2 separate regions of the Homo sapiens genome follow, and region 1 is linked to region 2. Evidence: fine-mapped expression QTL. A gene starts in region 2. The other region holds a variant in brackets. All regions are shown on one strand. Distances are between the middles of the regions.

Region 1 (2,913 bases), 670 kb before region 2:
TGAGCAACAGAGCAAGACTCTGTCTCAAAAAAACCAAAACAAAACAACACAAAAAATTAGGTGCAGAAAGTATGGGAAATCCCAGAAGGGTTACAAAGCTGTGTTTAGAAGAAAACATGGGCTAGGAACAATGGGTCACACCTGTAATCTCAGCACTTCGGAAGGCCAAGGTAGGTAGATTGCTTAAGCCTTGTAGTTGGAGACCAGCCTGGGCAACATAGTGGGGCTCCATCTCTACAAAAAGTTTAAAAACTGGCCAGGCATAGTGTTGTGCACCTATAGCCCCAGCTACTTGGGAGGCTGAGACAGGTGGATTGATTGAGCCTGGAAGGTAGAGGCTGCAGTGAGCTGTGACTGTGCCACTGCATTCCGGTCTGGGTGACAGAGTGAGAATTTGTTCCAAAAAAAAAGAAAGAAAAGAAAAAAGAAAACACAAGAATATTTATTCTGGCAAATTCGAGGCAAAGATAGTGGGAAAGGGGAATTTTGAATTCACTTCCAACTCTTGAAACCAACTGAAAGCCAAGAGCAAAAAAATAAAAAAGAAACTTCTACTTTCAATAAACAGGAGAAAAGTTATAAAACAAAACCACGGAGGATGACTGCTGAATGAAATGAATTTTGATCCAAAATATGTGAGGATTCAGAGCCAACACATCCTTGTAGAGACTCTGGGAAAGAGATCAATTTCCCTAAGATGAAGTGCCGTGCTCCCGAGAAACGCATCAAGGATCCTCTGTGGGTGGACTGACAAGGTCTAAGGTCTGACTAAGGGTGGGGCAGACATGGCCACTGTTCTGCAATATCATTATCTCTATTGTAATGGAACCTATGGTTTTTAGATGGGATAAAGACTGTATTTATCTGCTTCCCTTGTACATAGGCATGGCCATAAGTTCTAGCCTATGGAATGTAAGTGAAAGTGGCATGTGAAATTATGGAAAGTGTGCCGTTTTTTAATAGCTTTATTGAGATATAGTTCACACACCACACAATTCCACCATTTAAAGTGTACAATTCAATGGCTTTTAGTATATTCAGAGTTAAGCAACTATCACTACATTTTAAGATAATTTTTATTATCCCCAAAAGAAACTTGGCACCCCTTATCCACCATCTCCCAAATCCCCCAATGTCCCAGTCCTGGGCAACCATGAGCCTACTTTCTGTCTCTATAGATTTGCCTATGCTGAACATTTTCTATAAATAGAATCATGTACTAAGTGGTCTTTTATGTATGGCTTCTTTCACTTAGCATAATGTGTTTGAGATTCATCCATGTTGTCACATGTATATTATTTTATATCTTTTGGTTGTTAAATTATATTCTGCATTTTGAATAATGGTGCTATGAACATTTGTACGAGTCCTGTGTGGACATATGTTTCCATTTCTCTTGAGTGTATACCTAGGAGTAAAATTTCTGTGTGATATGGTTCTATGTTTAACATTTTGAGAAATTGCCAGAACCGTTTTCCAAACTGGTTGCACCATTTTATGTTCCTTCCAACAGGTGTGTGAGGATGGGAATTTTGATTTTAAAGATCCTGGCTCCTTTTCTTTTTAAAATCAAAATTCCCATCCTCACACACCCATTGGAAGGAACGGCACTTTGGGAAGCTGAGGTGGGAGAATCACTTGAGCCCAGGTATTTTAGGCCAGCCTGGGCAA[C/T]GTAGTGAGACCTCCGTCTCTACAAAAAGTTTTATAAAATTGGCAGGTGCACCTGTAATGTTGGTATGCACCTGTATCTCTGGCTACTTGGGAGGCTGAGGCAGGAGGATCACTTAAGCCTAGGAGTTAAAGGATGCAGTGAGCTATGATTGTACCTTTGTGCTTCAGCCTGGGTGACAGGGCAAGACCTTGTCTCAAAAATAAAAGGAGAGAAGGTGAGCTCCTTGCTGGTGGCTGAAATGTGAACATGCTGACAAGGCTGGAACCATCTTGGATAGTTGGTGAATATATGTTGAGCCTGGCAGAGCAACAAGCTAAAAGGAGACTGCACAGCAATGGCCTTGAACTGCCTGCTTCCAAACTTCATTTACGTGTGACTAAAGAAATAAAGCTACAATTATATGGGGCTTTCTCTCACTTAAAGCTGAATTCTAATCTTAACTGATATAGGTTGTTGGGGGATAGGGAACACCCCTGGAGAATTAGAGACAATAGGGAAAGACACTCAAGAAGGCAGAACCAAGAGGGAGGTGGCTAAAGGAAGAGCCAGACTGACAACACCATTTTATATCTTCCCAAACTGTCTGTCTTAGTGAGGGGGGATGAAGGAGGAGGGACTAGAATCATCAGATTACAACACAGAGCACCTGAGTAAAGCAGGTTGTTTTGAGCCACACCAATGTCCTGAACTCTAGTATCTGAGAAAAGACATAATAGCATAGAGCCCAAGAAGCATGGTGACAGGTGTTTGAGAAAACAACCCGAAATGGCATTGGGGATGACTCCTGCTCACATTCCTCACTCCGCTCTACCCTATTTTTCTTTTTCTTCCTTTTTATTTTTTTGAGACGGAGTCTTGCTCTGTCACCCAGCCTGGAGTGCAGTGGCGCAATCTCGGCTCACTGCAACCTCCACCTCCCGGGTTCAAGCGATACTCCTGCCTCAGTCTCCTGAGTAGTGGGGACTACAGGCACACACCACCACGCCCAGCTAATTTTTTTTTAGTAGAGATGGGGTTTCACCATGTTGACCAGGATGGTTTCAATCTCCTGACCTTGTGATCCACTCACTTCAGCCTCCCAAAGTGCTGGAATTACAGGTGTGAGCCACCGCGCCTGGCCTCTACCCTATTTTTCAACACATCATGATCCAGACAGAAACTCCCCTGTTCAAAGATGAGGGATAACCAGAAAGGGAGACACGTGGAGATGCTTAGGAGAAAAGAAGATACATCACAAGAGA
Region 2 (2,913 bases):
ATCGTAAAGACATGGCATCAACCTAAATGCCCATCACCAGTAGACTGAAGAAAATACGGTACATATACACCATGGACTACTATGCAGCCATAAAAAAGAAAGAGATCATGTCCTTTGTAGCAACATGGATGGAGCTGGAGGCCTTTATCCTAAGTGAACTAATGCGGAAGAGAAAACCAAATACTGCATGTTCTGACTTGTAAGTGGGAGCTAAACATTGAGAACACATGGACACAAAGAAGAGAACAACAGACACTGGGACCTACTTGAGGCTAGAGGGTGGGAGGAGGGAGAGGATCAGAAAAAATACCTGTCAAGTACTATGCTTACTATCTGGGTGACAAAATAATTTGTACAACAAACCCACATGACAAGCAATTTATCTATAAAACAAACCTGTGCATGTATCCCGAACCTAAAATAAAAGTAAAAAAAAAAAAAAAAGCAGTTTACCATCTATGAAGGGTGTGGCAGATATGCAATGTTAATAATAGCTGACATTTAGAGAGTCCTTCTTACATGCAACTAACCACTTCGTAAATGTATTAACTCACAAACTCCCCACACCAACTCTGAGGAAAATACTATTATTTCCACAGAGCAGGAACTTCCACAGAGAGGTTAAAATAACTTGACTAAACCTGCCCAAATTCGTAAGCGGCAGCCAGAATCTAAACCTAGATAGTCCGGTCCCGGAGATAGGTTTTTAACCACAAAGGCATTTTCTAAAATTGTGAAAGTACAGAAGCACAGGAAAGAGACATTTTGGCCAGATAAGGGTTAAGGGAAGGCTTCATGGATGAAGTGGCATTCGCTCTGGGTCTTGAAGGTCAGCAGATGGAGAGGGCTCCTGGGGAGGAAGGACTCTAACGGGGAAGGAACAGCCTGACGAAGAGGAACTTTGGGTACCAGCCAGCTGACGACAGCAAGATCTGGTCCGGTGCGCGCGGGAGGAAGCTGGGAAGGGACGTCGCGCCCAGATCCCGAGGTCCTTGAGGACCAGGCCCTCTCTGCAAGGAATCGGGGAGGAAAATCTCAAACTATTAATAGAAGAGCGGCAAAAAGGAATTCGTGCGCACCCCTCTCTGTTGGAAGGACCTTCCCTGCCAGAGACCAAGGCTGGCAGGACAGGTATACTTCCCTCAGGGGGAAACAGCCGACAAAGGTGGTCAAGGTCGCCCGCGCAGGCTCCGGAGCTGCACGTCCTGGACGAACACTCCCGTCCCGAGCACAGACGCTGGGTATTTGGCTGCCAGCCCGGGCCCGCCAGGCCGGGCCTGGCACCGCCAACACCTGCTCGGCGGGAACAGGAAGACCTGTGTTCGGGAACTCCCTCCGGCCACCTCCCCGTATCCTCCTGGCCCTCGAAGGTCGAAAGGTGGCCTCTCAGGGACACCCGCCGCTCGCTCGGCTCCTCCCCTCAGCCGGGAGACCCAAGGAATAACAGCCTCTGCGATAGGAGCACGCTCTACCAATCAACCGTAGTCTTCGCCCACGCCTCAGCCGGAGGAAATTGCATTGGTTGCATCATTCTCGGCAGCCGATAAATTGTTTTCTTGGATTGGCTAATAGCGTTCCTTCTCCCCTGTGCCTTCGTCGTCAGAAGCTGGCGATTGGTTAATCGCGTTGCCAAGCTTTGGACGCGGCTCGACCATTGGAGGCCGCGGGCCCGCCCCCGCCGGCTAGGTGAAGGTGAGTGTCTCCTCCAGTCGCAACGGCCAGACCTGACCTGCCAGCTCCGGGCGTGGGGTGAAATCTCTTGATTCCTAGTCTCTCGATATGGCACCTCCGTCAGTCTTTGCCGAGGTTCCGCAGGCCCAGCCTGTCCTGGTCTTCAAGCTCACTGCCGACTTCAGGGAGGATCCGGACCCCCGCAAGGTCAACCTGGGAGTGGGAGGTAAGGATGTAGTGCTCTGGAGTGTGAGCAGCTCGGGGAGTGGAGCGGACCCAACCCAGGTCGTGGAGACTGTGGGAGAAGCCGAGGCCCAGTGTGGCGCTGCCTGAAGAGGGCGGCGCCGGAGAGGAGGCTGGATCCACGAAGGCTTCCTAAAACCTGCCCATTTTACAGATGCAGGTGTGGAGTCCCTGGAAAGGGGCGATGTGTCCGAGGCCGCACAAACCAGGTGTAGCAGCCAAGACACAAACTCAGTCTTTCCGATTCCCCATTCTGCCTTCTTTATACTGCATCCTCCTAAGAAATGAGGCTGCCGGAGCTTGTAGAGAGAGGTAGAAAAATAGGAAGCCTGATAGGCTTAGGGTTCTGGTTGCTAGGAAATGGGTAAAGGAGAACTTTTAACGCTAGAAAGCTCTGTTCTGAGTCGGTAAATATTTGAGTGACCACCGAGTATCAATCAGCCACCTTATTAAGCTTTGTAGGGGGAGACTGAGGCTTGATTTTGCCCTTAAGGATTTAAAAATCTGCTGGTGTTACACAATGCTTTGAGACAGGTTAATGCTGCCCCCGGGGGGTCTGGGGAGATGGTTCTGGCCGTCACAGATGTGGTAGGAATGGGTAGAGATGGTGGAAAGGAGTGGAGAGAAGTATGGATGGTAGAAGCTTACTTTCCACACATCCTATCTTCATTTCTTGATTCAAGTGATTCTCTTCTGTACCTTGGACAGCTCAGAGCATGGGCCTCAGTTTCCCCATCTGCCAAGAAGATTTATATTGGAGTGCCTCTCAAATTTTTTACCCCTAACCCTCTCTGATGAATTTGTTATTCTTCTCACTATCATTTGGATGTTTGAAGCCCCACAGACACTTATTTTCTCCATTTGGATTTTGCCACGTGCAAAGACCAGCCAGAGAGATGAAAATGGGTAGGATAAAGTCTTATGCTAGGTAATAGACTTAGAATAAAAGGACTAGAAATTGTGGAAAGAGAAGGTGGAATCATTTTGTAGCAGAGTGTG

Alleles and levels. Positions count from the first base shown, and alleles are read on the strand shown. Sizes are in standard deviations (SD) of each study's normalised expression.
For the expression in cerebellar hemisphere of the gene that starts at base 1,409 in region 2, allele C in region 1 goes with a higher level than allele T (moderate effect, 0.58 SD a copy in GTEx).

Evidence for each region. PIP is the estimated chance that this variant, and not a neighbour inherited with it, causes the effect. A credible set is the group of variants that fine-mapping cannot tell apart.
Region 1: its variant is the best candidate, but not a certain one, in a credible set for the expression of GOT1-DT in cerebellar hemisphere (GTEx, PIP 0.72).

Annotation. Positions count from the first base shown.
Region 1 is chr10:100,097,257-100,100,169 of GRCh38, reverse strand. No RefSeq gene overlaps it. Among named protein-coding and RNA genes, the nearest start is that of CPN1, 17 kb to the right of the region's middle. The variant C/T (reference allele first, on the strand shown) is at 1,672.
Region 2 is chr10:99,429,432-99,432,344 of GRCh38, reverse strand. It overlaps GOT1-DT (GOT1 divergent transcript), which reads right to left and starts at 1,409. Exons shown (of 5, transcript NR_183993.1): 1 at 1,080-1,409. GOT1 (glutamic-oxaloacetic transaminase 1) reads left to right here and starts at 1,721. Exons shown (of 9, transcript NM_002079.3): 1 at 1,721-1,897. The coding sequence starts at 1,780. RefSeq lists enhancers at 1,141-1,570, 1,751-1,800, 1,821-1,880.